2 separate regions of the Homo sapiens genome follow, and region 2 is linked to region 1. Evidence: fine-mapped expression QTL. A gene starts in region 1. The other region holds a variant in brackets. All regions are shown on one strand. Distances are from middle to middle. Region 1 holds the start of NADK (NAD kinase). Region 2 overlaps NADK (NAD kinase).

Evidence for each region. PIP is the estimated chance that this variant, and not a neighbour inherited with it, causes the effect.
Region 2: its variant is fine-mapped to the expression of NADK in whole blood (INTERVAL, PIP above 0.99).

What each region holds. Positions count from the first base shown.
Region 1 is chr1:1,770,412-1,786,352 of GRCh38, reverse strand. NADK (NAD kinase) reads left to right here and starts at 7,883. Exons shown (of 12, transcript NM_023018.5): 1 at 7,883-8,064. It overlaps GNB1 (G protein subunit beta 1), which reads left to right. Exons shown (of 12, transcript NM_002074.5): 12 at 1-1,067. RefSeq lists enhancers at 3,199-3,368, 5,678-5,777, 5,788-5,857, 5,868-5,927, 5,938-6,107 and 1 more and silencers at 3,289-3,583, 7,168-8,367.
Region 2 is chr1:1,750,842-1,766,782 of GRCh38, reverse strand. NADK (NAD kinase) reads left to right here. Exons shown (of 12, transcript NM_023018.5): 2 at 1,337-1,555; 3 at 4,748-4,831; 4 at 9,473-9,602; 5 at 10,175-10,280; 6 at 10,440-10,525; 7 at 11,307-11,409; 8 at 12,085-12,239; 9 at 12,400-12,499; 10 at 12,575-12,732; 11 at 13,134-13,216; 12 at 13,723-15,551. The coding sequence starts at 1,377. The coding sequence ends at 13,879. It overlaps LOC112268218 (a long non-coding RNA gene), which reads right to left. Exons shown (of 2, transcript XR_002958243.2): 2 at 15,041-15,941. Among named protein-coding and RNA genes, the nearest start is that of NADK, 20 kb to the left of the region's middle. RefSeq lists enhancers at 5,832-6,789, 13,130-13,659. The variant T/C (reference allele first, on the strand shown) is at 10,030.

The sequences.
Region 1 (15,941 bases):
CCTTCACCTTTGCTGAAAAGTGAGCTCAGATCCAGCACCATGTTCCTCCTGACCCATCCTGTCTATCTTCTCAGTTGAGTTTTTAATCTCACTTTGGGTTTCCTTGTGAAGTTGGAGGGAAGTTTATAATAGCCTAACACTACCCCACCCCCAACTAGGAGGAACCTCTGTTTTCAAGAGAGATGCCTGTCCTGTGCTTGGATAGTCAGTCAATTATTTGTGTATGAAACAATGTACAAATCAATGTTTTGAAAATAATGATCTCAGACTTTCTAAGTTAAATTTTAAAAATTTTGATTGTTTGCCATATTGGGTGGGTTTACTCTTAGAATCGCATGCTGTAGAAATGCTCAAAAGTGCATATGGGACTCAGTCCTTAGGTGTTCTTTTTCTTTTAAGAAATAACCTCTTACAGTTGTAACCATTGCGGCTCTGTCCACTTCTCGTTGCTGCTCTGTGGCACATATCGGAAGCAGTACAGCGCGCGGCTCTACACGCTTGGGTAGCGGGATAAGTCACTGTTTTCTTTATTTCTTTAAAAAAAAAAAAGTTCTGTTGCAAACGACTGCTGTTGGATTCTGAGGGTGGGGAGGGAGAGAGAGGGAGGGAGAGGGAGTGAAGAGCCTGCCCTCCTATATGGATTCTTCAGGGCCCTCCACATCTGAGGTGGCTCATTCCCATCACACACAGATTGTCCTGGTGTTCATTTCAAGGCCAGTGTTCAGCAGCAGCGTTTGGAAAGCAGGTTCTGTGGGACCCCCCGCCCCGCCCCCCGCACTCCTTCATAGCAGCAGTAGTGGCTTCTCCATCCTGTTTTCTGCAACATTCTATACAAAACTGTGCTGTGACCTTGCGGTAGGCCTGGATCTGGCAAAGAGAATACAAATGAAACCCCTTCTTTCTCTTTCCGTCCAACAACTCTGTAGAGCTCTCTGCACCCTTACCCCTTTCCACCTTTTGTATTTAATTTTAAAGTCAGTGTACTGCAAGGAAGCTGGATGCAAGATAGATACTATATTAAACTGTACTGTTATTTAAGATGTAATAAAGCAGTTTGACATGAGGGACTTTGGTGTGGTGATTATTTACGGGTCCACTTCCAGTTTGCAACGCGCCCGCTTCCCTAAGCTGTCCCTGTTGCTGTGAGGTCTGACGGGCCTGCTCATGCCAGGCGGTGCCATGGCCGCCACCACGTCACAGAATCCATGAGTGGCGCATTGGCTCCTCGGAGGGGTTCCTGGGAAGCTCCACCTCACAGGCCAGCAGAGCAGGGAGGTCCACCTGCCATCGCCCAGACCCCTCCCCAGGCATAGGCCTTGCCCACAGCACCGTGGGAGTCTCCACAGGCGGCTGCCTTGCCTTTCTCCTCTGCCATTTCCCTCCCTTAGAATGTCTGAGGATGTTACTCCAGAGACTAGCTTTCCTTGGGACTGAACTGAGTGTTCCTCTTGGTCTGAATATAAAGAACTGCATCTAGTAAGAAAAAAATGAGCACTGGCCATGGTAGTGTGGAAAACCATGGCTGTGTGTGTCCCAAATAGCCGCTCCTAGGCTCCAGAACCATCCACTTCCCTGCTTTCCAAACTGGTGATTTTTTAAAATCTTAAATAGGCAATACAAAATTAGCTGGGCATGGTGGCACACGCCTGTAATCACAGCTACTCTGGAGGCTGAGGCAGGAGAATGGCATGAACCCGGGAAGGCGGAGTTTGCAGTGAGCCAAGATCGCACCACTGCACTCCAGCCTGGGTGAGAGAGCAAGACTGCCTCTCAAAAAAAAAAAAAAAGTAATTTTTTAATTCCCATGGCTCCAGCAGCTGGAACTTTTTTTTTTTTTCTCCCTTGATGTGGAGTCTCGCTCTGTGGCCCAGGCTGGAGTGCAGTGGCGCTATCTCAGCTCACTGCAACTTCTGCCTTCTGGGTTCAAGTGATTCTCCTGCCTCAGCCTCCCAAGTAGCTGGGATTACAGGCACGTACCACGACGCCCCGCTAATTTTTTTTTTTTTTTTTTTTTGAGACGGAGTTTCGCTCTTTTTTGCCCAGGCTGGAGTGCAATGGTGCGATCTCAGCTCACTGCAACCTCCACCTCCCAGGTTCAAGCGATTCTCCTGCCTCAGCCTCCTAAGTAGCTGGGATTACAGGCGCCTGCTACCATGCCCAGCTAATTTTTTGTATTTTTAGTAGAGACAGGGTTTCACCATGTTTGCCAGGATGGTCTCGATCTCCTGACCTTGTGATCCACCCACATCAGCCTCCCAAAGTGCTGGGGTTACAGGTGTGAGCCACCGCGCCTGGCCCAGATGCCCGGCTAATTTGTTGTTGTTTTTTGAGATGGAGTCTCGCTCTTGCCCAGGCTGGAGTGCAGTGGCGCGATCTCGGCTCACTGCAAGCTCTGCCTCCTGGGTTCACGCCATTCTCCTGGCTCAACCTTCCGAGTAGCTGGGTCTACAGGTGCCCACCACCACACCCGGCTAATTTTTGTATTTTTAGTAGAGACGGGGTTTCACCATCTTAGCCAGGATGGTCTCCATCTCCTGACCTTGTCATCCGCCCTCCTCAGCCTCCCAAAGTGCTGGGATTACAGGCCGAGCCACCGCACCCAGCCAAACTTTTTCCTAGTAAGTGAAGAAGGCTCTCAGCAGAAAGTACCTGTAGGCCCCCTCCTCCCCTGGGCACCAGAGAACCCAGCAGCCCCTCCTCTAGGCTGGCAGTCCCTGGCCGGAGAGGCTCCCATAGGGCACTTGGGATTCACGGAGCAGGGCCCAGCCGCCCTGCTCCAGGCAAGGTGCTGGGTGTGTTTCTGACGCCACCAAGGGTGCCCATCTGCCAGCACTGCAAGTGACACTATGGCGTTGTCTCCCTGGTGGGGTGACCTGGTGCTGTTTTAGGCTGCTGAAGTGGGTGTGATTGGCAGGCTGAACGGGGTGGGCTCGCCTGGCTTCGTCATCCCCCACTTTTCCCTGAAATAAATCAGTTCTTCATAGACATGCAAGTTCTTCACAAGCCCTAACCCTGCCAGCTGTCTTACAAAAACCCCACTTAAAATCACTAGAGAGTTGAACTTGTCTTGGAGGCGTCAAAAGAAAAAAAAAATTAAAAATTAAATGCAGAGAGTACCTGAGGCTCTTTCCTGGCTGGCAGTTCCTGGGAGGGAGGGGCTCCAGCAGCCGGGAGGCAGGGTGCCGGCCTGCAGTGGCCTATCTTGGTCCCTGCCCAGAGTAAATAAAGGCCGAGCATCTCAGCACGGCTGCCACACCCCCGACTCCACTTCCTCCCTTTGGGGATTCCTGTTGGCTTCTGTGTCCTAGCCTGGCACCCCGCAGACTGAGGGAGCTGGCATGTGGGACCTGGGACCCTCTGGTGCCCCTTCCCCTTGGCTTTGGCCTGGAAGAGCCAGAGCTGAGGGGGACCCCTCCCTGGGGCGGCCTGCCTGTCCCTTGGCGGGCATGGAGGCCACTGCCCCACTTTCTTAGCAAAACAGGAAATGAAAACGGGCGCCAACAACGTGCACTTGGACAGCGGCACTGACTAAGGCAGTGTGGAAAGAGGAGGATAATTCCACACTGGCTGAGTGAACTGCAATCATTTTCAAACTGTAGGCACAGAAATCTAGTTTGTAGATTGCATTAGCCTGGCCTATGCAGGAGCAGCGCCCTTTGTCGCCAGCAGCTCCGCGGTGTGGGGGCCCCTGGCGCGCTTCCTGTGTCCGGGTCACCTGGCTCCGCCCCGCTTGCGCGGGCGCACCTGTCGCAGGTGGACACAGGCAGTGGAGTGACCTGCAGCTCGCTCCGGCTGTGGGCTGTTCCTGCAGGGCCTCGGACCTCCTTTGACCAAGCGGCGCGGGGTCGCCCCTGTGCTCCATGTCCCAGGGATGGAGGTTCCCCACCTCAATTTTACTCTAGCACGTGGCACGCACGTCCACACTTGAGCAGGACAAGGTTTCCGTTCTGTCCCCTCCGTGTCACGCACCTAGCAGAGGCTGGCCCTCAGCAGGATGCGTGGGGAGGCGCGCTCTGCCCACGCGAAACGGGGACACTTCAGCGGCCTGGCGCGGCCCCCCGCTCCCCCCCGAGCCGGACCTGGGAGCCTGAGTGACTGGGGCCAATAGAAGGGCCGGCCGGGAACCGAGCGCTCCCGGGAAAGGCCGCCTCGGCCCCTCCCACTACTCTCTGGCCTCGCCCTGTCCCCTACCCCCACCCCCCAGCTCCCTTTCCTCGCTGGGTGACCTTGAGCAAGTTACTTGGCCTCTCTGTGCCTCTGGCCCCCGCGTGAAAAATGTGGACAATAAACGTACCAGGCTGTGGCCGGGCGCTGTGGCTCACGCCTGTAATCCCAGCACTTTGGGAGGCCGAGGTGGATGGATTACCTGAGATCAGGAGTTCAAGACCAGCCTGGCCAACATGATGAAACCCCGTCTCTGCTAAAAATACAAAAAATGAGCCGGGTTCAGTGGTGTGCGCCTGTAACTCCAGCTCTGGAGGCTGAGGCAGGAGAATGGCTTGAACCCGGGAGGCGGAGCTTGCAGTGAGCTGAGATCATGCCACTACACTCCAGCCTGAGCTACAGAGCGAGACTTCGTCTTATACTAGGCTGCTTGGTAAGGATCTTGTGAGGACACAGGGAGTCCCAGTCCTGCCAGGTGGTTACTGTTGATGATCCCCGCCCACTCTAGGCTCTCACCACTTCAGGGTCCTGGTCCTTGCTGCTGCCTCTGCCTGAGAGAGAAACACTTGTCCCTGGGTACCTTGGTCAAAACTGTACCCCAACCCCTGCCTGCCCCCACCAATTCTGCTTCTTGCCCGTCTGCCCCACTAGAAGGTGAACACCTGATGGACTTTGGTTTCCACTGTTGAATCCTCAGTATGCCCTGCACATGGCTGGCATCCTGGGAAAGAGGTTGCCCCTCGCCCCAAACCAGGCCAAACAGAAGACTGTCATGTGAGCAGATCCAGACACTGGCCCCTGCAGACGCCCCTATCCTGGCTTTCAGCCTGGGCAGGGCCTGTGCCGGGTGCTGGCTGGAGGCTGGATGAGATGACCAGATAGCCTGCCATACTGATGTCCTTCACTGGGAGCCTCAGTCCTTCCCAGTCATCCTTTCCCCAGGCTCCAGGCCACTTACCCTTGTGGGTTCTGGGCAGACTTCGTTCACCCAGTTTACTGGAGCCAGGCCACCTGAAGCCAACTTCCCTCTCTCCTCAGCCTCCCCAGGAGCAACCTGTACCCCAGTGCACCCCATCCTGCTCCATCCCTCATGGCCTCCGTTCCCCCTTCTCCCTCCACCCTCCCCATCCCTGCTGACCCCCAGAAGAGGATGGGTCCAGGTTTTGGGGGTTCTGAAGTAAACAACATGGGAGCCATCCTTAAAGAATACAAAAAACAATGCGAAATTATGTGAAGAGTCCACTGCCACCTTGAGCAATGGCAGCCCTGGGGCTGAGGAAGGTCAGGGCAGGGGATGCCACCCACTGCTGCCCCATCCCTGGGGCCTGGTCAGGCAGGAGGGGGCCTTTCCTGACCCCCAATCCCTTGAAGGCAGAGCCTCTTCCTGTGCACCATCTGGCAGAAGCCCCCATGATAGCCCTGGACCCTTCTGTTCCTGCTGCGGGAACATCTCTTCCCTTTGGTCTCAGCCCAAGCAAAGCTGCCTCTTGGACCATTCTGGGTGCCCTAAGGAGCCTTCCCAGCTTTGGTCTTAGTTATTGCTGGCCAGGCCTGGGGTGAGGTGTGGGTGTGAGATCTTGGCCCCTGAATCTTCAAGGTCATATCCGGGGCCTGCCCTGAGAAATTGCACAACCTGTCAGCTGAAGGAAACCACAGCCCTGGTTTTGTTTTCTCATCTCTGAAACAGGGAAGCTCTCCTGCAGGCAGTGCCCAGGCCCAGGGTAGACAAAGGGTTTTCATGCCACAGACGGGGCAGCTGCTGGAGCTCCCTACACAGCGGGACACGCGAAGGGCACCTGCTGTGTGACCTGGGGCCCACGACAGTCACTGGTTGCCTCTGCAGAAGCAGTTGACTGCCTCCACTCTAGAAGATTCTACTGAGGCCTGGCTCAGTGCCTGGCTTGTGGGTGCGCCATCTAGATCAAGCATTATTATGCTAATGATCATATGCAAAAACTCAGCTCACGCATTATTATGTTAATGATCTTATCCGCCCCCTCTCCCCCCGCCAAAGAAAAAGAACTGGGCAGCTCAAGGCCGCTTCTGTGGGTGTGGCTGGTGGTCACTTTGAAACAGTTGGGTTTGCAAAATAACCCCGGGAGAAGTTACAGAGCTTAAGAAATCCCCCAAGTTCTCATGATCCTTGCTTCCCTTTCCAGTCACCCTTGGTGCCCTGTACTTCACTGTGGTCCTGAACTGAAGAGCTGTGTTTTTCAGGAAGACTTGGCCAGGCCGTGTTCCGTGTCTCTGGATTCAAGTCCCAGGAGTCCTGACCAGAGAGCAGGTATGCGGGTGTGGGGAAGGGCTGCAGAGGACTCAGGTCCACACCGACCCTGGGCCAGGTGATCACACAGAAAGTATAGACAGGGACTGAACCTCAGAAAACAATGGCTGGGCCAGGTGCAGTGGCTTACGCCTATAATCCTAGTACTTTGGGAGGCCGAGGCGGGTGAAGTTTGAGACCCAGCCTGGGCAAAATGGTAAAACCTCATCTCTACACACACACACACACACACACACAAATATATATATATATGAATGAAGTAGTCGAGTGTGGCGGGACCTACTTGTAGTCCCAACTACTAGGGAAGCTGAAGTGGAAGGATCGCTTGCACCTGAGAGGTCAAGGCTGCAGTGAGCCGTGAGCCCGCCACTGGACTCCGGCCTGGGGGACGAATGAGACACTATCTCAGAAAAACAAAACAATGTCTGGCACCTGGGGGACCAGCAGGTTAGAGCAGCTGGTCGTGCATTGCCAGTTTACCTGACAGTGACTCGAGAGCTGAGAACTGGGTATAGGGCACATTATTGGGATATTTGAGGCCTGAAGGCGCTGATGAGCAGCCACCAGTTCAGCAAGTGCGGGCTGGGTGGGACCCGCAGTTCCAACAAACACTACAAAGTCCGCTCCTGTGGCTTTGGCCTCCTCCCCCAACTCCCCGAGTCCTCCAGCCTGTGGGGTGCGCAAAACACGGCTCCCTGGTCCCCCTAGAGGTGCCCCAGGCCACCGGGTCCTCCCTCCACTGCCAGCCTTGGGATCCCAAGCGTAGACCTCTGAGGACGTTCGTGGGCGTGCAAGGCGCACCTGGCCGCTAGAGGTGGGCGTGAGGCCGATCGCGGTTCCCCCAGGCGCAGGGCCGCCCTCCCAGCCCCGACGGACAGCCCCGAGGGAGCGCAGCGCTGCCGCAGCTGCTCTAAGTTTCGGTTCCCAAATCCGGCTCGGCCCACACCGTGTCACAGCCCGGTAATTAGGGAAGCGGCGGCGGGCGGGGCCAGCTCTCGCGGGGCACCTGCACTCCCCTGAGCCGGCCCACGTGGTCCGGGAGGTCCCGCCCGCGGTGGCGGTGAGTTGGGGGCGGGACGCCGGGCTGGGATCACAATGTCGGGGGCGCCTAGGCGTAGACGTGGCGGGCGGACCCGGGGGCGCCCTCCGGACGCGGCAGGTGAGTGGGGACGGGAGCCGGGGGCCGCCCTCCTCGGGGCGCCGACCCCCGCCTACCCGAGTCGCGGACGCCCGCCCCTGTCCCCGCTGCCCGCCTCCACTCCCTGGTCACTGCTCTCCACCGCGATTCGCCCCTCTTCCCCACCGCCCGCCTCTTTCCCGCCACGCCCGCCGCCTCCCGCCCGCGCGGGGTGTCCCGGCGCCGGTGGGACCCGGCAGACGCGCGGGACGCCCCACGTGCGCGGCAGCGCGCATGCGTGGCGGGTGCGCCTGCGCAGTGGGCGGGCGCGGCGCATTGCTGCTCGGCGGCGCCGGCGCCGGGGTCCGGGCGGCCATGGGGCAACAGGCGGCCAGGGCGCCAAGGGCCAGGTAGCGACGGCTGGCGGCGGCGCGGCGGCGGGGCCTGCGGGCTCGGTCCGGCATGTAGACGCCCCCGCAGGCGCCCGCGGCAGCGAACGGTGAGTGAGCAGACCCGGCCTGCCGTCCGCCTGGGGTCGCCCGCTGCCTGGGGTCATCGCTGCCCGCGAGCGCGCGGCCAGGCGGGGAGACACCAGGCCGGCCCTGCCCATCTGGCCTGCTGAGGAGGCCGTGGAAGTGCTGACGGGCCACCGCTCCGTCCCGAATGGGGCACCAGCACGGCCCAGGGCGAGGCTCGGCCTTGGGGACGGGTCTGAGGGAGGCCGCTGTCCGGCCTGGCTCTCCCGGGCGGGGAAGGTGGGGCCGTCCAGCCCGGACCGCGCTTGTCAGTCGCCTCTGCTTGGGCGGCCAGGTCCTCGGTGTCCGGCCTTCCGTGGGTGGTTTCAGCAAGCAGGAGGGGTCTTTGACTCGTGAAAGCTTAGAGGGGCCCAAACCTAGTGGGAAAGTATGAATAAAAGATTCTATACAGCAGTATTGGCATGGAATTCTCTAAAAACACATCTCTGATTTAGTGCCCAGTACTTGCCAGAAAATTCCAATAGTCTATGGTGATGTTCCTACAGGCGGCTGCCATCCAGTAGGTCAGATGTCAGCACCGGCCTTGAGCTCTAGGTCGTCGTTTTTTTTCTTAATTGTGGGAACAGGGCGTGCCCAGCTCCGAAGGCCTGGTGGAGTTTTCCTTCCCAGGCCAAGGACCACCCCCACCCTCCCATCCCTCCTCCCCAAGCAATGAGATTCCTTTTGGCTTCGATTCCGAGTAACAAGTTATTTTTCCTTTCTTGTTTTGGAACACACTAAGTTTTACATTCAAAAGTTCATTATTCTTGGCTCTTGATGGGAATACATTTCAAAACTCTTCTCTTCTTGTGTTCCATGTCTCTCTGACAGCCTTAGTTGGCCTGAAACTGACATGTTTGCCTTAATAAGTTTTTTTTTCCTCCTGATGTCATCTTGTCTAAGAAGCTAGTTACTTTAACACCTTGTTAGATAATTCCCTTCAAGTACTTATTCCCCTGAACATTGTCCTCTCAAGCCTCTGGAAATTTCCTGTCCCCTTGGAACTTCTCTGTAAGGCCTGTTTGCTCTCAGCAGTGACTTCACTGGGACTTTTGCAGCCACTTTATGGTGTTAGCACGCTGATTCCAAGCTACTTGAGGAATCACAGGTGCCACCGCAGTACCCAACAAAATAGCTTCATCATTTGGAGGTGTCCTCTCGAGATGTTTCTGTGTGTATATGTGTGTGTATGTTAGAAACAGGGCCTCACTCTGTCCTCCAGGCGTGTTTATGGTGGCATGATTATAGCTCACTGTAACCTCAAATTCCTGGGCTCAATTGATCCTCCCACCTCAGCCTCCTGAGTAGCTGGGATTACAGGCCTGCACCACCACACCTAGCTGATTTATAAAATTTTTTGTAGAGATAGAGTCTCACTGTGTTGTCCAGGCTAGTCTCAACCTCCTGGCCTCAAGAGATCCTCCTGCCTCCACTTCCCAAAGTGCTGATCTTACAGACGTAAGCCACTTTGACCAGTCTTTTTTTTTTTTTTTTTTTTTTAAGACAGAGTCTAGCTCTGTTGCCCAGGCTGGAGTGCAGTGGCACAATCTCGGCTCACTGCAACCTCCACCTCCCGGGTTCAAGTGATTTTCCTGCCTCAGCCTCCTGAGTAGCTGGGATTACAGGCGCCCACCACCACGCTCAGCTAATTTTTGTATTTTTAGTAGAGACGGGTTTCACTGTGTTGGCCAGGCTTGTCTCGAACTCCTGACCTCGTGATCAGCCCACCTTGGCCTCCCAAAGTGCTGGGATTACAGGTGTGAGCCACCACAGCTTGCCTCACTTGGACCAGTCTTTTTGTTTGTTTGTTTCATTTGAACTTGGAGGTGGGTTTATGTTGTTTCAGTTGGCAGCCTGCTGTTTGGTTCCAAAACAGCATTTTCTTCTTGAAACAACTGCTGTCAGCAGTTAGATTTCCAGGCTAGCACAAAAACCTGTTTGACTCATAAATCCTTGTAGTGAGGGTGTCCCAGAAAGTTGGCCAAGTCAAGAGCAGTTCTTGTGGAGTGGAGGCGGTGAACAAATAGGGGGAAAGTGGCGCTCGTGATGAAAACGGAAAACAATAGTTGATTTTATTGAGCTTCACGCTTGAGGAAATGTAGGTCTCACTTGGAAAATTAAGAGGCAGGTGGGTGTTTGCGGGACTCGACGGCCTTGCATCTGGATTACCTCCAGTCTGCAGGTGTGGTAGGATGACAGCAAGAGGGAGTGTTGAGCACACAAGCCCAGCACTTGGGGGGAGGCTGTGTCATGGCAGGAAGGTACAGGGCCTCCTCCAGCAGCTCCACTTTCTAGTCCGTATATACCTGTTGACAGTCACCGCCCAGCTTCAGCCGTTCTGGACAAGTGGGTGTCAGTAATGCTTTAGCTTGTAACCCCAGGATTTCATTTCTACTCTCTGTGCTGGTGGCTTATCATTTGCAATCTTTCCTGGCCCACAATTGCAAAGGTCCTAGCATTCATGCATGGGAATGGGGAAGTGAATAAAATGTGTGTGTGTGCTTCAGACAGATGGTGAAAAGTGTTCAGAGAAAAAGCGAAATTGAGGCAGATGGGATGTGAGGATGCCACGCACACTTTGTGCAACTGAAGAGGGAGGTGATGCCTGGCCTTCCCATTCAGAACTGCCCAGACCCCTGTTTTCTTCATCTGCCCCTAAGTAGGTGGAGCCACATCTAAAGAAAGCCCCCTTCAGACCTGTAATCTGCTTAGGTTTAATGAGGTCACAGGGTGAAGCCCTGTGGTCACATGGCTGTAGCACTTTCCAGAAAGTCTTTCTCAGTTTGTATACTGCCAGTGTGCATGCCAGCACTGGGCATTATTTACCGGGGTGAGATGAGATGGGTAATTTAGTGGGCAGTAAGTTTTTTCCCACTCAGGGTTGAGGTTGAATGTTTCCCCATTTCTGTCACTAAATAAATTTTCCTTTTTCATTTAGTCTTGCAACAAATATTGATTGAGTTCTTACATGGGAACGAACTCGTGTATTATGTTTGTATTTGTGTGTGTGTGACTTTTGTTCATGTTCTTTGCACATTTATTTATTGGCATCTTAATGTTTTCCTTGCTACTTTGTATAAGTTCGTTATGAATATTTTCTTATTGTGCTCTAGTATTTTTTTCTAATAAAACTTCCTAATACAGAGGATTTTTTTTTTTTCTTTGAGGCGGAGTCTCACTCTGTCCCCCAGGCTGGAGGGCAGTGGCGTGATCTCAGCTCACTGCAACCTCTGCCGCCTGGGTTCAAGCGATTCTCCTGCCTCGGCCTCCTGAGTAGCTGGGATGACAGGCGCCTGCCACCGCGCCCAGCTAATTTTTTTTGTATTTTTAGTAGAGACGGAGTTTCACCATCTTGGCCAGGCTGGTGTTGAACTCCTGATGTCGTGATCTGCCCGCCTCGGCCTCCCAAAATGCTGGGATTACAGTCGTGAGCCACCATGCCCGCCCTACAAAGGTTTTTTAAAATTAGATTCATGCTATGAGGAATTTGAATGCACTTTGGTGCAGCTAGCATTGTGTGTCCTTTTAAAGCAGTTAATATATCAAACAAATGAATTAAGTGTCAGTCCTGACTCACCCTTGTCAAAAAATACAGTGGTGACCGCGCACGGTGGCCACGCCTGCAATCCCAGCACTGTGGGAGGCCGAGGCACAATGGTGGCCGCGCGCAGTGGCCACGCCCGTAATCCCAGCACTGTGGGAGGCCGAGGCATAATGGTGGCCGTGCGCGGTGGCGACGCCTGCAATCCCAGCACTTTGGGAGGCCAAGGCGGGCGGATCATCTGAGGTTGAGAGTTTGAGACCAGCCTGACCAACATGGAGAAACCCCTCCATGTTGGAGAATTAAGAGGCAGGTCTCCACTAAAAATACAAAATTAGCTGGGCGTGGTGGCGCACACCTGTAGTCCCAGCTACTTGGGAAGCTGAGGCAGGAGAATTGCTTGAACCTGGGAGGCAGAGTTTGCGGTGAGCCGAGATCGCGCCACTGCACTCCAGCCTGGACAACATCAGCGAAGCTCCATCTCAAAAAAACAAAAAATACACTGGTTGTGGTATTGGAGATACTTGTTAAATATATATATATGTGTGTGTGTGTGTGTATATATATACACACACACACATACATAGGTGAAGATAATTGTTTAAAGTTGGTTTTAATATTTAATATTATTTTATAAATTAGTTTACTGCTTAGTCATCAAATTGATCTTCGCAAATAAATATGAACAGAGCTTCTAGGCTGGGTGCAGTGGCTCATGCCTGTAATCCCAATGCTTTGGGAGGTCAACACAGGAGGGCCACCAGAGCCCAGGAGTTCAAGGTCAGCCCGTTCAAGGTAGCGAGACCCTGTCTCTACAAAAAATTTAAAAATTAGCTGGACATAGTGGCTCATGCCTGTAGTCTCAGCTACATGGGAGGATCCCTTAAGCCTGGGAGATTGAGGCTGCAGTAAGCTGTAATTGCACCACTGCACTCCAGCTTAGGTGACAGAGCAAGACCCTACCTCTCAGTCTCTCAATATCTCTATTTCTCTCTCTCTCTCACACACACACACACACACACACACACACACACACACACACACACACACACACAAAATAGAGCTTCTAGGTAATGTAGCAGTAATAATACATTTTTTTTAACATTTTGTGATTTTGATTTGTTTATTTTTTATTAATGTTTTTGTAGAGACGGGGTCTTGCTGTGTTGCCCAGGCTGGTCTCCAATTCCTGGCTTCAGGTGATTCCCCTGCTTCGGCCTCCCAAAGTGCTGGGATTACAAGTGTGAGCCACTGTGTCTGACCTTTATTAACTGTTTATTTTGAAATAATTGGCTGGGTGCGGTGGCTCACACCTGTAATCCCAGCACTTTGGGAGGCCGAGGCGGGCGGATCACCTGAGGTCAGGAGTTTGAGGACCAACCTGGTCAACATGGTGAAACCCCATCTCTACTTAAAATACAAAAATTAGCCGGGTGTGGCGGCGGGCACCTGTAATCCCAGCTACTCAGGAGGCTGAGGCAGGAGAATTGCTTGAACCCTGGAGGCAGATGTTGCAGTGAGCCAAGATTGCGCCATTGCACTCCAACATGGGGGACAAGAGCGAGACTTCGTCTGGGGAAAAAAAAAATAATCATAGACTAATTCATAGGAAGTTGTAAAAATAGTACAGAGAGACCCCTGTGCCCTTCACCAGCTCCCTCTGTGTTAACATCTTTTTTTTTTTTTTTTTGAGATGGAGTTTGGCTCTTGTTGCCCAGGCTGGAGTGCAATGGCGTGATCTCAGCTCACCGCAACCTCCCCCTCCCAGGTTCAAGTGATTCTCCTGCCTCAGCCTCCCGAGTGGCTGGGATTACAGGCATGCGCCACCACGCCGGGCTGATTTTTTGTATTTTTAGTAGAAACGCGGTTTCTGCATGTTGGTCAGGCTGGTCTCAAACTCCTGACCTCAGGTGATCCGCCCGCCTTGGCCTCCGAAAGTGCTGGGATTACAGGCATGAGCCACCATGCCCGGCCCTTGTGTTAACATCTTACACCTCCATACACCTCCATAGTACAATATCAAAACCAGGGAATTGAAATACTGCTAACTAAACTATAGACCTTATTCAGGTTTCACCAGTTTTACATGTGTGTATGGCTCTATGCAGTGTTACCTCTTAAATTAATTATATAACCACTAGCAAGACACAGAACTGGTCTTGAACTCCTGGACTCAAGCGATCCTCCCGCCTCGGCCTCCCAAAGTGCTGGGATTACAGGCACAAGCCACCACACCCAACTGTATTTTAATTTTCTTAACAGTGTTTTGGCTAGGCACAGTGGCTCATGCCTGTAATCCAAGCACATTATGATGCTGAGGCAGAGAGATTGCTTGAGCCCAGGAGTTCGAGGTCAGCCTGGGCAACATGGCAAAACCTCATCTCTACAAAAAAATACAAAAATTAGTCAGGCATGGTGGTGCATGCTTGTAGTCCCTGGTACTCAGGAGGCTGAGGTGGGAAGATTGTCTGAGCACAGTAGGTAGAGGCTACAGTGAACCATGATTACATCACTGTACTCCAGCCTGGGGACAGAGTAAGACCCTGCCTAAAACAGGAAAAAAAAAAAAAATTCAGGGTTCCATTAAGTATAAAAGATTTTAAACACCACTAAGACTTTTTCCAGCTGGGTGAGGTGGCTCACGCCTGTAATCCCAACACTTTGGAAGGCCAAGGTGGGAGGATCACTTGAGACCAGGAGTTTGAAACCAGCCTGTGCAACATAGGGAGACCCCATCTCCACCAAAAAAAAAAAAAAATTTCCAGGTGTGGTGGTGCATGCCTGTAATCCCAGCTACTTGGGAGGCTGAAGTGGGAGGATTGCTTGAGCCTGGAAGGTTGAGGCTGCAGTGAGCTGAGATCACACCACTGTACTCCAGCCTGGGCAACAGTGGGAGATCCTGTCTCACAAAAAGACAAAAAAAAAAAAATTTCCAGTGCTTTCTTCTAAAAAGTTTCATAGTTTTAGTCCTCACATTTAGGTCTATAATCCATTCTGAGTTAATATTTGTATGTAGTATGAGGAAGTGGTTGGGCTTCGTTCTTTTAGACGTGGCTGTCCAGTTGTTCAGAACTATTAGGTGAAAAGATGATCCTCCTCATGTTGAATCACCTCAGCACCTGTCAAAAATTCATGGACTGCATGTGTGTGAGGGTCTGTGGCGTCTACCTTTGGGCTGGCCGTCCTGTTTCCTTGATGTGTATGTCCGTCTTGATGCTGCCACGCTGTCTGGTTCCCGTAGTTTTTCAACAAGTCATGAACTTAGCCCTTCGCGTTTGTTCTTGTTCAAAGTTTTTTCAGCTGGTCTAGATACTTTACATTTTCATGTGAATTTTATCAGCTTGTCCTTTCCTTTAGAGAAGCCTGCTTGGCTTTTGATGGTTGTGTTTGGGTAACATTTGCAGATCAATTTGATGAGAACTAAGATCTCAATATTGAGTCCTCCAATCCATGAACATGGTATGTCTCTCCATTTATTTAGGTTTCCTTTCATCTCTGTCAGCAATATTTTGTAGTTTTCAGTGTGCAGTTCTGACATGTCTTTTGCCAAATATATCCCCACATATTTTATATTTTTAATGCTATTATAGATCATATATATGTATATATATTTTAATAAGATATATATTTTTAATAATATATGTGTGTGTGTGTGTATATATATATATATATATATTTTTTTTTTTTTTATAAGATGAAATCTCACTCTTGTTACCAAGGCTGCAGTGCAATCTCGGCTTACTGCAACCTCCACCTCTCAGGTTCAAGTGATTCTCCTGCCTCAGCCTCCCAAATAGCTGGGATTACAGGCATGTGCTACCATGCCTGCCTAATTTTTTATATTTAGTAGAGACAGGGTTTCACCATGTTGGTCAGGCTAGTCACAAACTCCTGACCTCAGGTGATCCCCACCCACCTCGGCCTCCCAGTGTTGGGATTACAGGCGTGAGCCACCACACCCAGCTGTAAATTATATTGTTGTTATTATTATTATTATTTTGAGACAGAGTCTCTCTCTGTCACCCAGGCTGGGGTGCAGTGGTGCGATCTCCGCTCACTGCAAGCTCTGCCTCCTGGGTTCACACCATTCTCCTGCCTCAGCCTCTTGAGTAGCTGGGACTACAGGCACCCGCCACCATGCCCGGCTAATTTTTTGTATTTTTAGTAGAGACAGAGTTTCACCATGTTAGCCAGGATGGTCTCAATTTCCTGTTGTCTATTGCTAGTATATAGAAATACAGGCGATTTTTGTGTATTGAATTTGCCTTCTGAAACCTTGCTAATAAACTCACTTATTTGTTTTTCTACATAGAAATGTCA
Region 2 (15,941 bases), 20 kb after region 1:
AGGAAAAAAAATTAGCTGGACGTGGTGCTGTACTCCTGTAGTCCCAGCTACTTGGAAGGCTGAGGTGGGATCCTGTCTCAAAAAAAAAAAAAGAAAAAGAAAAAGGGGAAAAAAGGGTGAGGTTTTCTATCCTCACCAGTTTTCTTTGAGGCTTAATATTGGTCAGTTTGGTAAATATTTCATTGGCGCTGAATTCACGATGCAAGGCATGGAGTTCACAACATATCTGCTGGTTCAATTTTATTTGACAGCTTTTCTGGACTAGGGTATTTGAAATTGCACACTTTCTCTCTCATTAATGTGTTGTATTGTTTACGAGAAAAGAGCCTGTCTTTTTTTTTTTTTTTTTTTTTTTTTTTTTTTTTTTTTTTTGAGACGGAGTTTCTTTCGTTCTTGTTGCCCAGGCTGGAGTGCAGTGGCACAATCTCAGCTCACCACAACCTCCGCTTCCCGGGTTCAAGCGATTCTCCTGCCTCAACCTCCCAAGTAGCTGGGATTACAGACATGCGCAACCACGCCCAGCTAATTTTGTAATTTTAATAGAGATGGGGGTTTCTCCATGTTGGTCAGGCTGGTCTCAAACTCCCGACCTCAGGTGAGCCACCGCACCTGGCCAGAGTCTTTCTTTTCTTAAGACAGGGTCTCGCTCATGGGCTACCATGCCCGGCTAATTTTTTTTTTGCTAGAGAAGAGTTCTTTGTTGCCCAGAGTGGTCTTGAACCCCTGGCCTCAACTGATCCTTTCTCTCCAGCCTCCCAAAGTGCTGGGATTACAGGCATGAGCCACCACACCTGGCCACACAGTGTGACTTTCTATTTTGTTCTTTTTTGAAACAATTTTTTTTGTTAATATTATTTTACAGAAAAAATTTTGAGATGAAGTTTCACTCTAGTCACCCAGGCTGGAGTGCAATGGCATGATCTCGACTTACTGCAGCCTCCACCTCCTGGGTTCAAGCGATTCTCCTGCCTCAGTCTACCGAGTAGCTAGGACTACAGGCGCCCACCACAGCTAATTTTTGTATTTTTAGTAGAGACGGGATTTCACCATATTGGTCAGGCGAGGCTGGTTTCGAACTCCTGGCCTCAAGTGATCTGCCCGCCTCTACCTCCCAAAGTGCTGGGATGACAGGCGTGAGCCACGGCACCCAGCCAAAAACCTAGAGTAGTTCTTAAATATCTTTGCAATGGAAACAGTCTGTTTTCAAAGTACTTTGGTAAATTGGACTTCAGCCATTTTTTCCCCTTGATGAAATGGAACATATGTATGTGTAAATTATTATTGTTTCATACATATTTATTTACTTTATTTACATTATTTATTTTATTAAATTAAGGCATCAGTGTTTTTCTGACCGAAGTTCTCATTTCCTGACAATGGAAATGGAACAAGAAAAAATGACCATGAATAAGGAATTGAGTCCAGACGCGGCTGCTTACTGCTGCTCGGCCTGCCACGGCGATGAGACCTGGAGTTACAACCACCCCATCCGGGGCCGGGCCAAGTCTCGCAGCCTGTCTGCCTCGCCCGCCCTGGGGAGCACCAAGGAGTTCAGGTACAACTGGGAGGGATGGTTCCTCTTTTTTTTCTCGTCTGATTTCATAATATTCTTTCTTAAAACGATTATGAAGAATTCTCCTGAGTAGTCTGCGTCGATGCATCCGGAAGGTGAGGCTGGGTCCTTGCCCAGGTGAAGCTGTGCCCTTGAAGGGGGATCCTGGCCCATGGACACCTGCCTGGCGCACGTTCCCAGGTGCCAGCACAGGCACAGGGTGCCACCGTGTTTCTCTATCTGTCTGTATCAGCACAGAACCATCTAACTGGCGCCTACGCTGACCCTTGATGTTAGACTGAAGCGCACTTGGAGAGGAAACTTTTTTTTGAGACTGAGTCTCGCTCTGTCCCCCAAGCTGGAGTGCAGTGGCGCAATCTTGGCTCACTGCAACCTCCGCCTCCCAGGTTCAAGTGATTCTCCTGCCTCATCCTCCCAAGAAGCTGGGATTACAGGCGTGCACCACCATGCCCGGCTAATTTTTGTATTTTTGTAGAGACGGGGTTTCACCATGTTGGCCAGGCTGGTCTTGAACCCCTGACGTCAGGTGATCTGCCCGTCTCAGCCTCCCAAAGTGCTGGGATTACCGGTGCAAGCCACTGTGCCTGGCCTGGAAACATTTGCTCTACAGAAGTCACTGGGGTGTGAGGGGACATCCCTCTTGGCTCTGCTTGTTTTGAGAGGCGAAGGCTGGGGGGTTCTGCACTGTGAGCAGGGCTGGTGGAGGCAGAGTTATGAGCGTGGCCTTGGGCGGGCCCAGCCCTCTCACATGTTGGGCAAGTGGCTCCCTCCTGTGCCAAGAGTGCCCACAGCGCTCACCCTTGCACAATGCTGCTTGGGCAACAGCGCCCCGGGCTTTGCATGACGGTGGCCGCACAAGCACAGCTGTGATGGTGCCTGGGGATGGTGCTCTCGGTTCTGGTGATGGTAAATGTGGTGAGTTTTAGGTGGAAGCTTGCCAGAGCCGGCGCTGCCTAACAAGGATCACGACTATCAAATGCAAGGGGGGCTTTTTGGTGAAAAGTAGTCTTAGAAAGCATGTTGTCTTACCCAGTGAGATGGGAGAGCCTGTAGCGCCTCTGACGTGGTGGCAGCCGTGGAGAAACAGGCTACTCCCACGTTTTCTGTCTACAGAGTCGCTGCCTGAGCCAGGAGGCTACGAGCGCTGGTGGCTGCCTTCATCCCGCAGGCACCACGTCACCACTCAGCCTTTCTCAGATGCCTCGTTGCCTCGTTGTCAGTGGGGGTCGTTGTCCTGTACCTCCAGGCCACCCCAGCGCAGTGACTGCGTGAACAGAATTGCTTTGGGGTTTTATTTTTTTTTCCTGTGGGTTCTTTGGCATAATGCACCATTTCTGTTGCATTCTGAACCTGATGACAGCAGCCCTGGGTCAGAGGTCGCCTCCATAGTGAGTGACAGGCGCCTTCAGGGTGAGGTGGGGGAGGAGGTAGCCAAATACGCCCAAGCATAGCCTGTCCTTGGGAAGGAAACATTAAATCCCAACACCCACTTCGAGAAACATTGTTTTCCGCAATAATCTTTTCAGTTCGTAAGTAAGTAAAATTCTTTTGTAATGTACTTCGTTTTCTTCTTCTTTTTTTTTTTTTTTTTGAGATGGAGTCTTGCTCTGTCGCCCAGGCTGGAGTGCAGTGGTGTGATCTAGGCTCACTGCAAGCTCTGCCTCCCGAGTTCAAGTGATTCTCCTGCCTCAGCCTCCTGAGTAGCTGGGATTACAGGCATATGCCACCACGCCTGTCTAATTTTTGTATTTTTAGTAGAGATGGGATTTCACCATGTTGGCCAGGCTGGTCTCGAACACCTGACTTGAGGTGATCCGCCCACCTCAGCCTCCCAAAGTGCTGGGATTACAGGCGTGAGCCACAACGCCCGGCTAATTTTTTGTATTTTTGTGTAGAGACAGGGTTTCACCGTGTTAGCCAGGATGGTCTCAATCTCCTGCCTCGTGATCCGCCTGCCTTGGCCTCCCAAAGTGCTGGGATTACAGGCGTGAGTCACTGCACCCGGCCTGTACTTACCAATTTTTAAAAGGCTGAGGTAAACAAGTCCGTGACCACTGATGGCCACGCCTGTGTCACCTGTGGAGCAGCCCTCAGGGCACCACGGCTCTCCTGGGGTTGTCTGGCCCTGCGAGGCAGCGGAAGGCCGTTCTTCTGCATTGGGACTTGAGGATTTTGTTGGGCCGTTGCCTGGCCAGCTGTGTGCAAGTTTTCTGAGTTTGTGAAGGGACTGGGAGGCTCCCGGGCACCTAGGACGAGGGCAGCCTCAGTGCTGGACCCTGAGGAGCACAGCGGTCCTGACAGCATTCTCCCCAGGACGCGTGCGGCTGCCACAGCCCCTGGCTGGGTGATTTAACTGTGACCTGGCCATGTTTAAATCACTAGGAAAGTTGTTGAGCCGTTCATCTGGCGTCTTTTATTCATTCATTCATTCATTCATTCATTCATTCATTTTGAGACAGAGTTTCACTTTTTTCAGCCAGGCTGGAGTACAGTGGCTCGATCTCGGCTCACTGCAACCACCACCTCCTGGGTTCAAGCAGTTCTCTTGCCTCAGCCTCCTGAGTAGCTCGGACTGCAGGCACACGCCACCAGGCCTGGCTAATTTTTCTTTTTTTAGTAAGGATGGGGGTTTCACCATGTTGGCCAGGCTGGTCTCAAACTCCTGACCTCACGTGATCCACCCACCTCAGCCTCCTGAAGTGCTGAGATTACAAGTGTGAGCCACTGCGCCCGGCCTACGTCTTTTTTATTGACATGAGTTCAGAGTGAACATTTGTGCTAGAATTTTAATCTAGACGATTTAGAGATGAGATGTTGTCTCAGGTTTTGAGTCCCAAATGCAGATCTAGAGAGGGGTCCTGGAGACACTGAGGAATTCTGATCCCAGGCTGGCCCTGGCCCTGGCATTTTCCTTGTTTGGGCTGAAGCTCTCCCCGGCTTGGGTCATGATCTGAGCGGCGCGTGGGCATGCGTGCTCCTCACAGGTGCCGCTCCAGTGCAGCCATGGACCTGGGCAGAACCTTCCAAGGGCTATTGTGTGGCTGCTGGGCAGATGGAGTTGGCATCTTTCAAATTGCATGTATGCCTTACCGTGTAACCTCCTCTGTATCTGTGTCTGTCACTGCATGTCTGGTTTCAGGCCCTGGTGGCTCTGACACTGCCCTCTCCCCACAGGAGGACACGCTCTCTTCATGGGCCATGCCCGGTGACCACTTTTGGACCAAAGGCCTGTGTGCTGCAGAACCCCCAGACCATCATGTGAGTGCTGGGGCCCCAGGACGGGGGGTTCTTGGAAGGGAGAGAACCCCTAGACCATCATGTGAGTGCCGGGGGCCATGGGATGGGGGAGTCCTCGGGATGTGTGTGGAGTTGTGGGATCGCTGTGTTGAGGAAGATTCTAGCACTTCATGTGAGAAGTACATGTTTAGGTCATTTAAACAAAAAGCCACATGGGCGTCCTCCCTGAACCCCCTGAGTGCAGGCATCCGAGCGGGGGCTCCCCAGCTGTGGCTTTTCCAGTGGCTTTGAGAAAGTGGACGGCAGGCGAGCCGGGGCCTGGAGACCGGGTCACAGCCCGTGGGTGTGGCGGCTTCCACATGAGATCCTCAGGGCTGCCTTTTTGTTTCTTTAAGAGTGAGTGAGAATTCTGGGGTGGGTTGCGTTTGCTATTTGATGGTTCAGTTTGTCAACACATTCTGCCTGGAGGCCCGTCATAGTGTCATGGGAAAAACGCAACAGTGATCGATCTGATATCTGTGTTTTATGTGTAAAGAATTATAATCCAGGCTGGGCGCAGTGGCTCACACCTGCAGTCCCAGCACTGTGGGAGTCCGAAGCAGGCAGATCACTTGGGCCCAGGAGTTTGAGACCAGCCCGGGCAACATGGTGAAAGCCCATCCCTACAAAAAACACAAAAATTGGTCAGCTGCGGTGGCTCACACCTGTAATCCCAGCACTTTGGGAGGCCAAGGGGGGCGGATCACGAGGTCAGGAGTTCAAGACCAGCCTGGCCAATATGGTGAAACCCCATCTCTACTAAAAGTACAAAAATTAGCCAAGCATGGTGGCGCGTGCCTATAATCCCAGCTACTTGGGAGGCTGAGACAGAGAACTGCTTGAACCCGGGAGGCAGATGTTGCAGTAAGCCGAAGATCGCACCATTGCACTCCAGCCTGGGCGACAGAGCAAGACTCAGACTCAGAAAAATACAAAAATTAGCAGGCATCGTTGCACACACCTGTAGTCCCAGTTGCCAAGGAGGCTGGGGCGGGAGGATCACCTGAACCTGGGAGGTTGAGATTGCAGGGAGCTGTGATTATCAAAGTGCATTCCGCCTGGGCGACAGAGCAAGACTGTCTCCAGAGAAAAAAGTGAGCTCCCAGCCAGCCCTGAGAGTCGTATTCTGCACCTGGTAGACATCCTCATTGCCTCTTCCCCAGAGAAGCCTTTGCTTCTGGGACTGGTGCCTCAGCTCTCAGGCCTCTGTGCAGAACGGGCTCTCTTCCTCTGTGCAGAACGGGCTCTCTTCAGGGCCTCCTCCTTCACGGAGTCATGGATGCTTCACTTTCTGCAAGGGAGGACCATGCGGAAGGGCCGAGTGTTCCAGCGCGCAGGCTGCTGGGGACTGTTGACCAGAAAGCGCAATGCGGCCGTGTGATACGGGGGCGGCCACTGCATGGCCCTTTGCTGACAGGCACCGGTGCCATGGAGGCTGGGGGCGCACAGCAGGGACGGAGGCCCCAGCCCTGGGCTGTCACCGAAGTTCAGGTCCCAGGAGCCACGGGGGAGTCATCCGAGGAGCTGCTCTGCAAAGTGTGGGCCCCGCGGCAGCGTGCGTCCCAGGCAGGACGGGGGTTGGCCTTGCTGCTCCAGACGCTGACGGAGCCCCTTAGGATGGAAGTGACTCGCACTTGTGCTTTTGAGGCCCAGCCCTTTCAGTGCCACTGGTTCCCGGAGTGTCTGTGACCTGTCACTGCTGCCAAATGCCTGAGGCGGGGGGCCCGACCCCTGTTTGCTTTCCCTCATCCAGTCCATCTGCAGATTCTGTCACTTTGATCCCAAAATATCCAAGCAGCTCCCCTGCACTATTGCCCGGCTGCCCTCCGCTGTGTGGACTCCTGACCACTCGCCGCGGCCTCACCATCCCTTCCCTGCACAGCAGCCACGTGGGTGACCCAGAGTGCTCCACTGCCCTCCCGGCCCCGCCGTGGCTCTGTCCCGCCATCCTGTGCTTGCTGTGTCCCTGGCACCCCACCGGGCCTCTCCCCCGCTGCCTGGTGCCCTCCCTGCACTTCCTGGTCCTGGCAGAGCCACTCCTTTGTCACTCGCATCTCAGCTGCTGCCTTCACCAGCCGTCAGTCACTCGGGCCAGGGCGGGGTCACCGGACAGGTGCATGTTCTGCCTCAGCCCTCAGACCAGGGCGTACTCAGTGGTCCCCGAGCTGCCCGAGGCCAGACAGCCCCGCAGGAGGAAGCGGTGGGTTTGTGGGGCAGCCTTGAGGGGCATGCAGCTTTCTCGGCACCCCCATGGGAGCACGCCCCCTCTGGGCTCTGTGTCTCTGGGATCATAACCTCCCGCTTCCCATCCCCGCTGTGGAGGGGCAGGGCTTCCCATGCATCTGAACTTCCGTCTTCCCTGATAGTCCAGAGCAAGACCCTGTGGGGGCGCCTGGTGAGGAGGGCACCCGCTTCCTGTTTTGTTGTCCAGGGAATTGGTGGGCCTGTGTTGTGGAGGTGCGTGAGTGCCCGTGTGTCACAGTGTGCGTGGCCACCCATGTGTGAGACAGTCTCAGTAGGAGCTGGCCAGGCGGGCCAGGCTGTGGCCATGCTGGCTTCACGCCACCCCCTGCCCTCTCCGTGCAGTACCCACAGCCGTGTGTGCCTGCAAGCTTCACGCCACCCCCTGCCCTCTCCGTGCAGTACCCACAGCCGTGCGTGCCTGCAAGGGCTGGTGTCCTGCTTTGCAGGTGACCCAGGAAGAGGTCGAGGCGCTGGTTTGTGGTCACACACAGCGGTGGGTGCCTGGGCCGGTGTACGACGCCGCTGCTGGTGGCTCTGGCTGGGCTCAGCTGAGCCTCAGGGCTGGAATGGGTGTAGGCCAGGCCACTGGGTCAGTGGTGACTGTTGGCGGGGAGAGCAGGGGGAGCCGTGTGCAGGGCGGGGGCTTTGCTGGCTGACCAGGCCGGAGGACCGTGAGCCACCTGCACGCCCTTGGGCCGGAGCCAAGCAGAGTGACGCAGCGGGCTAGGAGGCAGGGAACGCCCTTCCACCTGACTGTGGCCTGAGGGTGCCTTCCCTGGGGCCCAGCCGGTTCCGCGGGCCAGAGCGGTGGCTGGCGCAGTGCTGGGGCGAGGCTGGAGGCTGGGTACTTGGCCAGGTCTGAGGCCACGGGAACAGAGGGCTTGGTCCCACCCGGCTCAGTTAGGAGCAGGGAGCTGAAGTGTGGCCTCTTTGCTGCTGAACTGAGGACTTTTTTTCAGAAGGGATTAGGCAGGAGGACCATGTGACCAATGAGGAAACTGTTTTGTTTTGTTTGATTTTTATAAGTGTAGGAAGCTCTTTTGACTTAGTTGCTTTTACAACAACTTTACCAAGTCTCATCACAATTGTGTTTTGCTTTGAGTTTTGAGTATGAAGAGCTTAGGCTTCTAGTGTGGGCGCACAGTCAGGACCATACCGATGGGGCGGCCGCGTGTTCGCCAAGCGTGGCCTGGATGCTGTGGACACACTGGCCGGCTCCCAGCAGGCAGGGGCTACCTCGCGAGCCACATGTGTGACCCGGCAGGTGCTGAGCTCATAGGGGATGGCATGAGTGACCCCACGCCTCCCAGTAATGCCTGCACAGGGTGAGTGCTGACCAGCTTCCGAAGGTCACAAGCGATGGGCTAAGGTCTGTGGCCCTGTGGCTGCCATCGGCGTCTGTGTTGTGGTTCTGGGGGTGTTAGTGGGACGGTCACACTCCTGGGGAAGTCACTGCTGGGAAGAGGCATGGCAGGCAGCAGCTTTCTCGATTGGGCAACTTGGAACTAGCTGGCTGGCGCGGTGGTATAAGAACTTGTCCTTTGGGGCTGAGGATAGGCGGTGAGCGCTGACGACGGTGGCCAGCCCCGCTGCGCCCTCCCTTGGCTTCTGGGAACAGGAGCAGGCTCCGTGGTGTGTGTTCCCGGTTCTGGGCTGGGATGTTTTCTGTGACTAACGTGGTAATGGGAATCCCACCGGGGTGGGCCCTGCCTGTGGAGAAACACCGGGCACAGTGGTCGGGGTCAGAGCCAGCAAAGCGCGGGTGGCTGTGTCAGGGCTGCCACGGACTTTTAAACCTGTGATTTTTACTGTGAGAGTGAGTGAGGTTAAAGTCCGTTCATGCAGGGAGGTAGTGAGCTGTGTGCAGGGGGGGAAGCGGGTCCTTGAGGGGTCCTGGGCTCCCGTGGGGCCAGAAACTGTGTGCAGAGGATCCTAGGGACAGAGTCACCATGTCAACTGGTTTGGGTTTTCGTGGGGGCCTGAGGAGGGCATCAAGCAAAGAGTGGCCCAGCCATGGGCTTTCGTGGTCATTTCTGCCCCACCAGCGTCACTGAGGAGCCAGGCAGGCAAGTGGCCGGGGGCTGGGAAGGGCTGTGGTGCGTGCACTTGGGTCAGCGTGGTGCCCGGGTGGGGGTTGTGGGCCTGAGCCTGCGTGTGATGGGCCAAGCAGGTGAGAGGTGGTCACTCCGGACCCTACTGACCCCTGACCCTGTCTCTGTGGCGCGACCCTAGGCCCTGTGAGCCCGTGGCCACCGAGCACGTTTCCCTGGGAGGTGAAAACACCTTTTTAAAGATTTTTTTTTTTATTTTCTAAGTCATACACCTTTTCCGCAAGAGGGAGATCGCAGCTGGTGTGAACTCTTTTCTCCTCCCCTAAAGGCACATTCAGGACCCCGCGAGCCAGCGGCTGACGTGGAACAAGTCCCCAAAGAGCGTCCTTGTCATCAAGAAGATGAGAGATGCCAGCCTACTGCAGCCGTTCAAGGAGCTCTGCACGCACCTCATGGAGGCACGCGGGGCAGGGGGGAAGGGGGCCTGGGGTGCACATGGAGTTGGGGGGGCCTCCATCCACATCACCGCCCCGTGAGACCATGGGAACCACCTCAAGTGCTGGGCAACGGCTGCTTGTCTGGAACTGGGGACTGAGTGGGGATCTGCCGGGTGTCTGGGTTTGTGTGTGCCGCCATGGCAAGCACCAGACTGGGTGACCAACAATGAGCTGGTGGGCTCGTGGCCCTGGAGGCCGGGAAGTCCGAGATCAAGGGGCCACATCTGACGTGGGCCTTCCTGCTGTGTCTTCTCTTCAGAAGAGCAGGCGTGGGGGTTGCGGCGCCCAGGAAAGCCACTCCTGAAATAACAGCCTTAGTCAATTCCTGAGAGGGAGCCCCCTCCGCCCAGTCATCTCTTAAAGGTCCTGCTTCCTCCTGGCGCGTTGG[T/C]GATGAAGTTTCAGCGTGAGCGTGGGGGGGCGGGCATGCAGGCCACGATGCCAGGTCTCTGACCACAGCGCCCGTGAGTCGGGAACCTCCCTGCAGGAGGGTGGGGTCTGCAGGTGGAATGAGCAGGTTGGCACTTTGCTTCCAGGAGAACATGATCGTGTATGTGGAAAAGAAAGTGCTAGAAGACCCTGCCATCGCCAGCGATGAAAGCTTTGGGGCAGTGAAGAAGAAATTCTGTACCTTTCGAGAAGGTGGGCTGTCAGCAGCTCTGTCCTTGGTTTCTCCAGCACAGTTCCCCGCCCCATTGGAAGCTTCTGGCACTGTTGCCCTTGTCATTGGTGTCTGCGCACTGCGCCACAGAGGGGCCACTGTGTGACAGCCTCTTCTTGGTTTTGCTTTGTGTTTCCTAGATTATGATGACATTTCCAATCAGATAGACTTCATCATCTGCCTGGGGGGAGACGGGACGCTGCTGTACGCTTCCTCGCTTTTCCAGGTGAAGCGCTGACATTTCCAGACCCACACCAGGTTCTAGTCTAGGTGCTGCGTAACGAGGGGCTCACAAGCATGGCTTCCATTGCTTTTCACCCCTTTATACGAGAGCAGTCACCTAGAGCGGCCAGCACTGAGGCCCATGGTGGCAGCCCGGTGGGGTGCGACGGTGGGGCCAGGGGCAGTGTGGACACAGTGCTACGGCTGGGGGTGGCCAGCGCCCGCCTGGGACAGCAGGGAGTGGCGCAGGGTGGTGGGTCCTGGGAAACGACCTCGCCTACTGGCCCATCCCCTCTGGGCCTCCCTTGAGCTCCTCTTCCTGGTTTCTCAGCAGCACAGCTCTCCCCTGGGGCTGTAGGGCCACGCTGTGTGGGGGACCCTGGCTCTGCCCTTGGCCCACTGCATGTTGGTGACACCGGAAATGCCCGCAGCCCGCCCTGCTTTTCTCCCCATCTCCCCATTAGCACCTGTGGGGCGCGAGGCTCCGACCCCAAGGCTGCCTCCCACCCGCCCTCGCCAGCTCCCCCAGCCCTCCGTGCCCAGGGGGCCGCTCAGCCCTGCCACCTTTGTTCCTCACCAGCTCCCCACACCAACCTTGGCCCTGGTGGCCCGGCCCACCCTGGCCTGCGACGTCCCCCTCCGCTTGTCCACATGGCCAGTCCCTCCTGCAGAGGGTCGGGGTGCTGTCCCCACAGAGCTGGGTCCCTCCTGAGGTGCTGCTGGAAAGCTGGGTGGTGCGGGGGTGCACGGCGTGGGCACTGAGTGACCTCTCCGTCGGCTCACAGGGCAGCGTCCCTCCGGTCATGGCCTTCCACCTGGGCTCCCTGGGCTTCCTGACCCCATTCAGCTTTGAGAACTTTCAGTCCCAAGTTACTCAGGTGATAGAGGGTGAGTTGGAATGTTCTGGAGCCCACAGGAGCTCTGATCATGGCGCTGCTGTCTCGCTTGCTTGCGGGGGGTTTATTTTCATTTAATGATGCATGGAGCAACATTTAAAGGTTTCAAGATTCAGGGATTTCTAAATCTTGAGTGGTTCAAACCTTTTACTGACACTGAGAAGTTTCAGCAGATCACAGGTTGAAGCTGCCATGTGTGTTGGGCAGAAGTGAGCTGATTCTCACTCTCAGAAGGCACAGAAGTGTCGGCCGGGCGCGGTGGCTCACGCCTGTCATCCCAGCACTGTGGGAGGTCGAGGCGGGCGGATCACGAGGTCAAGAGATGAGACCATCCTGGCCAACACGGTGAAACCCCGTCTCTACTAAAAATACAAAAATTAGCTGGGCGTGGTGGTGCGCACCCGTAGTTCCAGCTACTTGGGAGGCTGAGGCAGGAGAATCACTTGAACCTGGGAGGCAGAGGTTGCAGTGAGCCAAGATCACACCACTGCATTCCAGCCTGGGTGACAGAGTGAGACTCCATCTCAAAATAAAAAGAAAAAGGCACAGAAGTGTGTCAACTTGGGAGAAGAAAGAGCCCTCTGACTCCCACTGGCCTCCCTGGGGTGGGGCCCCTGACCCCACTGACTTCCCTGATGCATGCCCTCTGACTCCTGCTGGACCTCAGGGAACGCAGCTGTTGTTCTCCGGAGTCGGCTGAAGGTCAGGGTGGTGAAGGAGCTCCGGGGGAAGAAGACGGCCGTGCACAATGGGCTGGGTGAGAACGGCTCGCAGGCTGCAGGCCTGGACATGGATGTCGGGAAGCAGGCCATGCAGTACCAGGTGAGTGGAGGCGCCTCGGCCTCGGTGAGGGGCCCAGGGTGGGGCGACTTCGGTCCCAGGGATGAGGACCTTCCGGAGAGCCCGGCTGGGTGAGACGGAGGGTGTCTGCGAGCCGTGCGGCATCCCCCGCCCTGAGTGTGCAATGCTGTCGCCCCTCCAGGTCCTGAATGAGGTGGTGATTGACAGAGGCCCCTCCTCCTACCTGTCCAATGTGGATGTCTACCTGGACGGACACCTCATCACCACGGTGCAGGGCGACGGTAAGGCCCGCAGCACTGTCCTGGGGCCCTGAGCGTCCCTCGGGCGGGAGTGACGCCTGCGCCTGTCCCTGTCAGGAGTGATCGTGTCCACCCCGACGGGCAGCACGGCGTATGCGGCCGCGGCCGGGGCCTCCATGATCCACCCCAACGTGCCGGCCATCATGATCACGCCCATCTGCCCCCACTCGCTGTCCTTCCGGCCCATCGTGGTCCCCGCAGGGGTCGAGCTGAAGGTCAGAGCCAACGACACTCCTTTTCCGGTTTGTGAGTCATTTGACCCCGTGCAACACAAAGCCGGGACCTAGCACCCCGCTCTGCCATGCTGGCTCCAGCCTCAGACGCGGCCTCGTCATCCTAGGGCCATCCTGTGCCCCCTCAGATGCAAGCCTTCCCTTGCTGGTGCCCGAGTTCTGTCCATCAAGGTGCCCAGGGCCCGGGTCTGAGGGGCTTTCTGCCATTGTTGGTCTCTGGCGGTGCTGAGCTGGGCCGGTGCCTGTAGGACGTGCACTGCACCGTCCGCAAGGCAGGGTCAGAGCTGCCCAACCTTCGACCTCTGGCGAGCACTCAGGGGTGGGTGCCTAGAAGCGTCCTCCCCACAGCTGGGGGCCCACACCTCTCCCTGCTTGACCCTCAGATCATGCTGTCACCTGAAGCAAGGAACACAGCATGGGTGTCCTTTGATGGACGGAAGAGACAAGAGATCCGCCATGGAGACAGGTGTGGGCTGCATGCCGGGCTGGGCGCTGCCTGCCAACCTCCTCCCCGGGCCAGGCAGCGCCTGCCCTCTTGCGGTTGGCCTGTAGACACAGCTTGTCCCCTAGGGCACCACAGGGCCTGAGTCCCTGGGTCTTGCAGCATCACAGTCGGGGCACCCGTCCTGGGGGCAGCGGGTCGCATACGGTGGCACATGCAGGCCTGGCCCCAGCAGAGGCCTGAGGGTGTCCCCCCTGGCACTGCTGCCCACCCCCACCCACCTCCTGGGACCTCACCCCTGAGGGCCCTGGGGCAGAGTTTGTCAGTTCCCTGCACCGTCCCCTCCAGGACCTGGGATGGCTCTGTCCCAGCACCCATGGGGCACTGCTCAAGCCTGCCTCGGGGAGGGGCTGCCCGGCCCCACAGGAAAAGAGTCCCGGCCATTCCCAGGGAGGGAGGGAGGAAGGGTTCTTGGCCGGGGGTGGGCCTTTCTGGAAGCCCTGGCTCAGGCTGCTGCTCTCCCGTCCCAGCATCAGCATCACTACCTCATGCTACCCGCTCCCCTCCATCTGTGTGCGGGACCCCGTGAGCGACTGGTTTGAGAGCCTCGCCCAGTGCCTGCATTGGAACGTCCGGAAGAAGCAAGCCCACTTCGAGGAGGAGGAGGAGGAGGAGGAGGAGGGCTAGGTCAAGCCCCTATCCAGGCCCGAATCCTTCCGCTGCCCTCCAAGCGCCCTCTGGGGACAGACCAATCTGCGTGTGTCTGTGACCGCCTGTCTCAGTGGCACGGCCACTTCCTTTCTGTAGCTGGGTTAGAGCCTGGGTCTGCCTTTTGTCCAGATCAGCTGTTTTTTTAAAATGTCTGACTTTTTTTGCATTTCTAAAGAAGCGTGAGAAATGGGCTGGGAGTGCTTCTGTCCTGCTGACACCCCGCGGTGGGTCCCTGGAGCGCGGCCTCCAGCTGCCGCAATTTCCATGCCAGGATATTTTTCCGCAAATCAGTCGGTTGAAATTCAGAGGAGTCAGAATGACTCGACCTGTCCTTCAATGTTGATAATAAATGTCTCAGCCAAAAACCTTCCTTGAGCTGCCATGCTTTTCCCCTTGACCTGCACCTCTTCCCCTAAAACTTCTGCAGGGAAGCCCCTGGCGGAGGCGCCATTGAAAGCATGGTCTTGCCAGTGGCTGGCAAGGCGGTTTTGTTCTGCTCAGTTTCTGGAGAGGGTTGGATGCGTCCCCTGCCATCCAGCCCTCCCCGCTTGAGGCCAGCACTGAGTCTGGGACACTCAGCGGGAAGGGGGCTGGCATCGCCAGCGACCCACACATTCCTCACGTAGCTTCTGCTCCCAGGAAGGTAGTTTAAATCCTGTATATACTTTTTAGAGACTCTTTTAAACTTTCTGAAGTGCTGATGTACATACTTTCTCGTACACACTTTTGTGAAGATTTCAAGGGGAAGGGAGTCGTCTGCCATTCAATGTTTACATTTATGTTCTGCAAGACGCTGTCCTCAGGGACCATTAGGGGACCATTCTGTTCAGTGCGATCCTGATGGTCCGGGAGATGAGGGTTTCCGGGGCTAGTGATCGTGATCCCTTTTATTTGCAACTGTAATGAGAATTTTTCACACTAACACAGCGAGGGACTCAACACGCTGATTCTCCTCCTGCCTCTCCCGTGAGTCTCCAGCCTGCCCAGCACCGGCAGCTGTGGAGCACGTGGATGCTGCCTACCCCGGCGCCCGCGTCTTCCACGGGCACAGGTGTGTGGAGGCCGTGGTCGGACCCTGGTGTCCTGGTTACTGCTGCCCGGGTGTCTTTTTTTTGAGTAACTGCTCTCTGAGTTTTGCACACGAAGTTGCCCTCATCTGCTGGAGATCGATAAGGAAGGCACAAGACGTTCTCCTCTGCCCGTGAGGAGCTTCCCGCAGCCGCCTGGCCCAGCCTGGGCACGTTCTCCGAGGCATGTGTCTCCCTGCTCACCCTCGTCTGGGCACCTCAGCATCTGTGGACTTGAGCGTCCAAAAACCCTGAGTGTGATTCTGGGCAGCCGGCCTGGCTTGAAGTCCGCCATGACCCTGGGCACAGGGGAAGCCCAGCCGTGGGCTTAGGAGAGAGGGACCAGCGCCCAGCGTTAGGGCTGGAAGACGGCAGTGTTCAGAATTCCAGCCGCTCATCTGAACACAGAAGGTGTGAACTGACCTCTAAAGCAGCGTGAGATGGGAATGATCTAGAAAACTTTGGATTTTTGAAGTAAATTTTAATGTTTCATATTAATTTCTTGAAAATGTATTAAATGTCATTGAAAGCCTTATTACGCTTTTCAGATCCTTTCAATAAACAAGACTTGTAGAAAATAAGCTGGGTTAATAACAGCTTTCTTCTGACGCCGTGGAACCAACATAGAGGGGTCGGGCAGGGTCACCCCCATTAAATCCTAGCCCCAAAATGCCCATCCACCGAGTGTGGGGCCGGCAGGGCATCCTCCCCAAGGGGCTGGGGGTGCCGCTGCCTCTTCCGGGCAAGGGGGCAGTGCCCTGGCGGGGGTAGGGGTAGACAGAAGGGACTCAAACCCGAGGGGTGGTGTCGACTCGGGCAGGCTGTGTTGCTCCCGGAAGAGCCACTGAGACCAGGGGGAATTGAGTCCCTGCATTCCCGGGGCCAGCAGGGCTGGAAGAGCCCCTCCATCCGGGCTGCCTAACAGGGGCAGCCACAAGCCAGGTGAGGACCCGCTGGCCCCTGGGCCCAGC